Homo sapiens: one gene and its partner. The gene in region 2 interacts genetically with the main gene of each other region. Each region holds a gene or a part of one and is shown on either strand. Other genes may lie near its edges. The genes, in order: GNB1 and PIK3R5.

Region 1 (3,812 bases), on a different chromosome or scaffold from region 2:
GTGTATGTTTCATGGGTGTGGTTTCTGCTTCTGCCCCCATCACGGAGCTGTGGGTCTCTGTGGGACGTGCTGTCCTGCCTGGCCAGGCTCTCACCCTCACCAGCAGTGCGTGTGGACCTTCTGCTGTGTGCACAGATGGGAATAAAAGGTCACTAGCATGGTGCTGGTCTTACCTTAGACGTAGAGCTTCCACCGGGCCAATGTGTTTCTCTATGTATGAGGCTGGGTGCAAGGCCTGCTGGATTCAGCTCATCACTTAGGCCTGTTCTTTGCCAGGTTACCTGTCCTGCTGCCGATTCCTGGATGACAATCAGATCGTCACCAGCTCTGGAGACACCACGTGGTAAGTACCTGACCCGGGGCAGGCAGTGCCTTGAGAACCCACAGCCCCTGGCACATTCCTCTGTGAACATGGAGGAAATAAGGTTCTTGACATAATATTAGGCCATCTGTAATTTAAGTGGCCTTAAGATTTAAAACACATAGTAGCAATGTGTGAATTCATTATACTTTTTTTTTTTTTGAGATGGAGTTTTGTTCTTGTCACCCAGGCTGGAGTACAATGGCTCAATCTTGGCTCTGCGACATCTGCCTGCCGGGTTTAAATGATTCTCCTGCCTCATCCTCCTGAATAGCTGGGATTACAGGTGCCCGCCACCACGCCTGACTAATTTTTGTATTTTTAGTAGAGACCAGGTTTCACCACATTGGCCAGGCTGGTCCTGAACTCCTGACCTCAGGTGACCTGCCCACCTCGGCCTCCCAAAGTGCTGGGATTACAGGCGTGAGCCTCCGTGCCTAGCCTCATTATACTTCTAATAAATTTACAAAGTTTAATTTTCAGCAGCTGAGAACTAAAATACACATTTTTTTCTTTTTTTTTTTTTTTTTGAGATAGAGTCTCTCTCTGTCTCCAGGCTAGAGTGGAGTGGCGTGATCTCGGCTCATTGCAACCTCTGCCTCCCAGATTCAAGCAATTCTCCCCTCTCAGCCTCCCGAGTAGCTGGGAACTACAGGTGTGCGCCACCACACCCAGCTAATTTTTGTATTTTCAGTAGAGACGGGATTTCACCACGTTGGCCAGGATGGTCTCTTATCCGTTGACCTCGTGATCTGCCTGCGTCAGCCTCTGAAAGTGCTGGGATTACAGGTGTGAGCCCCCATGCCTGGCCAACATAGATATTTTAACTACAATCAGGCTCAAAGTACCTGCTCTTCTTTTTTTTCCCCTCTATATATTTGTACCTCCTTAGGTGATGATAGGTGGGAGTAGGGTGGGTTTTGATTGTCCCTTTCTGATAGCATCATGTCATTGTGAACAATGAGCACAGACTAAAAATAACAGACGTCACAATTCAAGTGATTCCATCAGACTTCATTTTTAGTGTTTTCACCTTACAGGTAAACGGAAGCCCACTTAAATGCTAGAATTTTTTCATTTGTGGCATCAAAGTACTAAATTAAATGTCCAGATAGTTATTTTATGAGAGTCATTTTAGACTTCAGCTGGCCATGTGGGTTTTTCTGGTCTTCTGAGGCATGATTTGGTGGCAGGAGCTGTGCCCAGCCCAGGGCACAGACCCCTAGTCACGCAGTTGGTGGGGTTCACCGAGACATGGGCCCTTAACCAACTTGTCAGCAAAGCATCTGTGGTATTATAAGGTGTCCTCGTTGTATAAATTTCATAGATTTACAAAAGATTTGTCACCTAGATTGTCAATCTTGAGAAGACTTTATTTATTAGAAGATATTTTTAAAGTGCTTCTGTTCATTAATCATTTTTTTCAGACTCTTTTACGTATCTTGCTTCCCTTCTGCAGTCAGTCCCTCAGGCCCTAGAGAGGAGGCTCCCTGTGCAGTGTCTGTTGAGATTGGCTGATTGGATTTGCATTGCCAGGCCCAGCCAGGCTTTCCTCTGAGGCTGACATGAACGGACAGTGCTCTCTGGTGTTGCCTTCCATGGGTCGAGGCACAGGAGAATAGTATGTTGGTGGGCGTGTGGCCCTCACAGCTGTCCTTACACCTGAGCCAGGCTTCTGCTCTGTGCAGGGCTCTGTCAGCGTCTCACCTTTTGACAGCTTGTTAAGCAGAAATGTGATAGAATACCAGGTATGGCCGGGCGCGGTGGCTCATGCCTGTAATCCCAGCACTTTGGGAGGCCGAGGCGGGCGGATCACCTGAGGTCAGGAGTTCGAGACCAGTCTGACCAATATGGAGAAACCCCGTCTCTACTAAAAATACAAACAAAATTAGCCGGGCATGGTGGCGCATGCCTGTAATCCCAGCTACTGGAGAGGCTGAGGCAGGAGAATCGCTTGAACTCGGGAGGCGGAGGTTGTGGTGAGCCAAGATCGCGCCATTGCACTCCAGCCTGGGCAACAAGAGTGAAATTCGGTCTCAAAAAAAAAAAAAAAATACCAGGTGTGATCACTGAGAACTCAGCTGCTCTCCTGTTTGTGATTCCAGGAAAGGGCAGGAGGACCTCAGAATTGCTGTGAGCCATTTGTTTACCTGGCATTGGCCTTCTCCTGCCTGCCTTTTCTGAGACCCTGTGGAGGGGAGGCCAAGGGAGGGCACAGAGGGAGCAGCCACAGATAGAGTCGCGTCCCCTCCGCCATCCAGGGCCTCCACGTAGCTTCCTGCCACCCCTTCCATGCCCATCCATGACCAAAGAGGGGGCACAGCCTCAGTGGTGCTGCTTGAAAAGTGCCCCCAGCTCCCTGTTTGCTGGCATTTGAGTTGAGGTAGCGATCCCGTCATTCTGAAGCCCAGGCCCTGTGCTCATCTCTGTATAATTTTGCTTGCTTTGCTTTGTTTCCCTTCCAAAGTTGTATTACATTTAAATTTGTCTTTAAACAATTTACGTTTTTAAAGTAACAGTGCAGAGGCTCACTGTGGCCCTGGGTGGTTTGAAGGACAGATTGTCTGTCACATGACTAGCCACCCAAGAAGTTAAGGCTGATGTCCCCTTGTCATTCGCTCCTGCTCCAGTGCCCTGTGGGACATCGAGACCGGCCAGCAGACGACCACGTTTACCGGACACACTGGAGATGTCATGAGCCTTTCTCTTGCTCCTGACACCAGACTGTTCGTCTCTGGTGCTTGTGATGCTTCAGCCAAACTCTGGGATGTGCGAGAAGGCATGTGCCGGCAGACCTTCACTGGCCACGAGTCTGACATCAATGCCATTTGCGTGAGTCTGGGTGGAGGTGTGGGGTCGGGTCCTCTGCCGTCTCTGCTAGCCGTTCAGATTGCTAAATTTTAAACTTTTCTGGATTAGATGTTCTCCTTTCTGATCCTTATACAACCTCATGTACAGATGGGGATACAGAAAACTCCCGATGGGAAACTTCTCTGTGTTGACCACTTGTCTCACAGATACTCACAGGGTGTTGTATGCCAGTCCCCGTTCCCACCTCTACAGCTGAGCAGTGGTTGGGATCCTGGAGGGGAAAGACAGTAAGATAACTCAGGCCACCAGTGGTTACAGAGCCTTACTGGTCAGGGGCACAGCTAACCAGGGAACCTGCCCTCCTCTTTAGCACGCGGATGGCTAGGCAGTGTTTCCAGCCCCTGGCCTTGTGAGGAGACTTAGAAGGATGTATCTGTTGGTTGGACAGAGCTCTGCTGCAGTCCTGACCACAGCCTTGGTCAGCCCGCTTCCCTCCTTCCTCCATGAGATTAGCCCTGATGGCTGGCAGCTACAGCAACATGCACACCTGTCAGTGATGACTACTTTCTCACTATCCTTTGGAATAAATTCTACTCTTTGGGGACAGTAATCACAGTGTCCAAGATCACAGTGTTTGTGT
Region 2 (3,812 bases):
CAGTTTGAAAAGCACTAGAGAGGGGGTGCCCATTAGGAGGACCCTCTGCAGGCCTTGAAGAGTTGGGTGCTGTCTCACCTTGACATGTTGGGAGCCCAGGGACCCCGGCCTTCACCACCTCAGAAATTATAGGCCCCCGGCCCTCCTCATTCCCAGCCCCAGGGGTTCACTTCCCACTCACTCCCCTGAGCAACACTTCTTGACTTCCCTCTAGGTGAAAACAAACACAAACAAAATGATAGATGTTGAGACAGAGGGAAAGGATGCTAAAATGTTGTAGTTTAGTAAGTAAATAAGATTCCTCTGGGGGAGCTGGGGCAGGTGGGCTGATGAAGAATCATCAAAGCCCTTTAGACCTTTATTCGGACTCCAGGCACCATCCTAAGCATGGTTACATGTGCTGACTCATTTAATCCTCACGTTAACCCCGTGAGAAAGGGATTTTTCACATAAGGGAAGTGAGGCACCGAGAGATTTGTAGAAAGAGCTTACAGTTGGGAGATGGTCTCACTTTCATTATCTGTAAATTGAGAATGATGATAAATTCTTCGGGAGAGAAATTATGCAAGCTGGTGAGGGCAGGGGCTCGGCTGGGCTCGTTACAAGGTTGTAAGGGGCTGCTTATACAAGCCCACCTCCTTTTTCTTACAGATAGAGAAATCAAAGTGAGTTTCTTCCCAAATGATGGGGACTTTGACAGAGACTAGTCCTGTCTCTGCCCTGTCCCCGGGCACCGACGTCCCCAGAGTGTGGAGGGAATGCTGCCCTGCGTGGTGCTCCTTTGCACTGGGTTTAAACGCAGTGTGGAATTGAGAGAGCAAGAGCTCTCATCACATGCAGCTCATACTAAAGCATTTATGGATACAAAGCCGCCATGGCTCGAATTTGCTTCGAGGTCATGCAGTGATGGAGGGGTTGGCATGGGGGAAGTGAGAACAGCCGTGCGTTGTTAACTGTAAACAGAGTGATCAGCGCCTCAGAGCCCACGATTCTTTTAATTTGGGGTATGTTTGAAAGTTTCCATAGTAGCCGGGCGCGGTGGCTCACGCCTGTGATCCCAGCACTTTGGGAGGCCGACGCGGGTGGATCACGAGGTGAGGAGTTCAAGACCAGCCTGGCTAACACATTGAAACCCTGTCTCTACTAAAAATACAAAAAAAAAAAAAGTTAGCTGGGCGTGGTGGCGGGTGCCTGTAGTCCCAGCTATTTGGGAGGCTGAGGCAGGAGAATGGTGTGAACCCGGGAGGCGGGGCTTGCAGTGAGCTGAGATCGTGCCACTGCACTCCAGCCTGGGTGACAAGAACAAGACTCCGTCTCAAAAAAAAAAAAAAAAGAGAAAGGTTCCATAATAAAGAAATGTAAACACTGGCACCAAGAGGGAATCTGGGTATCCATCGGGAAGGGAGGTAGCAGTGGCCAGGCACACAGTCCCCTCCCAGCCAGTGAAAGCCTGTATCATGGCTTTGGGCTGATTAGAAAAGGTGTCCCTCATAAGCTCAGGAAGAAGATGCACTCTGACTTGGCATCCCCTCCTCCGGGCAGATGCAGCCCCACGGCACGAGGAATTTCATGTCCCGCTCGCCCCAGACCACACTGCACAGCACCACGTTGCTGTCCAGCTCCCCCTGAAAACTGATCGCTTGGCTTCAAGTCACCTTGCCTAAAATATGATCCTCATTTGAGTAATCTTGCATCCACTCAGCTGTCTCATAGGAAAAAACGTTTATATAAAAATTAAGTAAATTTAGTTTTAAAGAATTAAGTTCAATTTTGAAAAGATCTTTGAAAACAACAGCTGAAAAATGCTCAGCAGTGAACCCCACGCTTTCCCCTGGAAACCTGGACCCTGGAGCTGTTGCTTCTGTCCTGGCCTCCTGTGGTCACCTCCTCGAGCTCTGCCTGGGCTTGAGGAGGCCCTGGTCTCAGTGGAGCTGAGCACCAGCAGGCACGAGGGGGGTGGCTGCACTGTGGCATGCTGCGCACCCCTGGGTGCCATAGCCGGTCCCCTGTGTCCCCAGCACCGTGCTGCTGCTGAACCCAGTGGAAGTGCAGGCCGAGTTCCTTGCTGTAGCCAATAAGCTGAGTACGCCCGGACACTCGCCTCACAGTGCCTACACCACCCTGCTCCTGCACGCCTTCCAGGCCACCTTTGGGGCCCACTGTGACGTCCCGGGCCTGCACTGCAGGCTACAGGTATGTACCTGGGGCCTGGGGCTCTGGTGGAGCACCTCTCTGAGGAGGTAGCACCCTCTCCCTGCTTCATCTCAGCCACGGTCTCCAGGGTACACTTAGTCTCCTGCACCCAGGTGACATGGCAGGGTGGTGGCTGGAGGGCTGACCTCATAGAGGGTGTTTCTGGTGTGCTGGATCCTAACCAGCTGGGTGGCAGCCTGGGCAGTAGGACTGGGTGCTGATAACTGGTGCCTCAGAAGATGGCATATGCCATAAGAACGAGAATGAGCTTTGGGCTGAAGACCTGGCATCTAGGCCTGGCTCTGTCACAGGTGTCACAGGTCGGCTGTGTCACCCCACACAGCTCCTTCCCCTCTATGGGGTACAGTGAGGAGCGCTGAAGTCCCTCCTAACTGCAGTGCCGTGGCTCTGGATCTTTCTCTCCTGACCATTTCCTGAGAATGGAAGGGCAGGGAGAGGCCTGGCTGCCTGGCCAGCTGTGGGTAGGAGATGGGTGATGAGGCTGGGAGGGGACAGATCACTGCCTCCCTCAGTAAGAAGCTAGCAACTGGAACAGGTGGACAGCTAGCTCACGGTCCAGGAGCAAAGCCCATCTCCTCCTGGGGTTTCAGGCCAAGACCCTGGCAGAGCTTGAGGACATCTTCACGGAGACCGCAGAGGCACAGGAGCTGGCATCTGGCATCGGGGATGCTGCAGAGGCCCGGCGGTGGCTCAGGACCAAGCTGCAGGCGGTGGGAGAAAAAGCTGGCTTCCCTGGGGTGTTAGGTGAGGCTCTTGGGAGAATGGGGTTCTCCCACATTCCCCATGGCCTATTCTAGGTCCCAAGGTGCACGGTCCAGGCGGGCCTGGTGGCTCTGCTCCACACAGTCACTCAGGGACTCAGCTTCTTCAGCATCTCACTGCTCTGCCATCCCCTAGGGTGTCTCATTCCTGTCTATAGGGGCAGGGTGGGGGTGCTATCATGATGGCAGCTTGTGGGAAGAGGAAAAGAGAGTGCTTACGAGGGCAAAGGCTGGGCTTTTCTGTTGAAGGTGATGCAGAAGCTGGGCACATCACTTCCGCTCATGTTCCTTTGAGCCCGCCTTGGTCACGTGGCCACATCTTGCCCCAAAGGAGCCTGGGAAACATCGTCTCTATGACTCCAGTACCATAGAAGGGAGCACAGACTTTGAGGAACCATTAGCATTCCCTGTTACAATATTCCTCATAAAAACCTTCTGGGCTAGTACTATTATTCTCCCATGGGCACATTGTAAAATGAGGCTCAGAGGTTGTGGTTTGGCCACATTCGCACAGCTCATAAAGGGCATGCCATCTACATGGTGTGCTTGAAAGAAGGGCCTCTGGCTTGGAGCCTGGCACCCTGGCTGTAACTCAGCCTCAGCCTATCCAGCTACATATCCTTGTGCCGATCCTGTCCCATCTCTGGTCTCTTCTCCAAGGCAAGGGGACTGGACTGGCCAATCTCCAAGGCCTCTTCCCAGCCCTCTTCTCCTATCCTCCCTGTTCTTACAGACACTGCAAAACCAGGGAAGCTCCACACCATCCCCATCCCTGTCGCCAGGTGCTACACCTACAGCTGGAGCCAGGACAGCTTTGGTAAGGAGCCGGGGCCCTGG

What was found.
Region 1: of PIK3R5 (region 2) and GNB1, changing one enhances a phenotype caused by changing the other (phenotypic enhancement), as found in Homo sapiens cells (one study listed by BioGRID).

The regions. Positions count from the first base shown.
Region 1 is NC_000001.11:1,789,776-1,793,587, reverse strand, and holds part of GNB1 (guanine nucleotide-binding protein G(I)/G(S)/G(T) subunit beta-1), read left to right. Parts: intron 1-276; coding exon 277-343; intron 344-2,991; coding exon 2,992-3,193; intron 3,194-3,812. UniProt on the Homo sapiens protein: Guanine nucleotide-binding proteins (G proteins) are involved as a modulator or transducer in various transmembrane signaling systems.
Region 2 is NC_000017.11:8,889,119-8,892,930, reverse strand, and holds part of PIK3R5 (phosphoinositide 3-kinase regulatory subunit 5), read left to right. Parts: intron 1-976; exon of another isoform or gene 977-1,143; intron 1,144-2,018; coding exon 2,019-2,193; intron 2,194-2,804; coding exon 2,805-2,958; intron 2,959-3,708; coding exon 3,709-3,792; intron 3,793-3,812. UniProt on the Homo sapiens protein: Regulatory subunit of the PI3K gamma complex. Required for recruitment of the catalytic subunit to the plasma membrane via interaction with beta-gamma G protein dimers. Required for G protein-mediated activation of PIK3CG.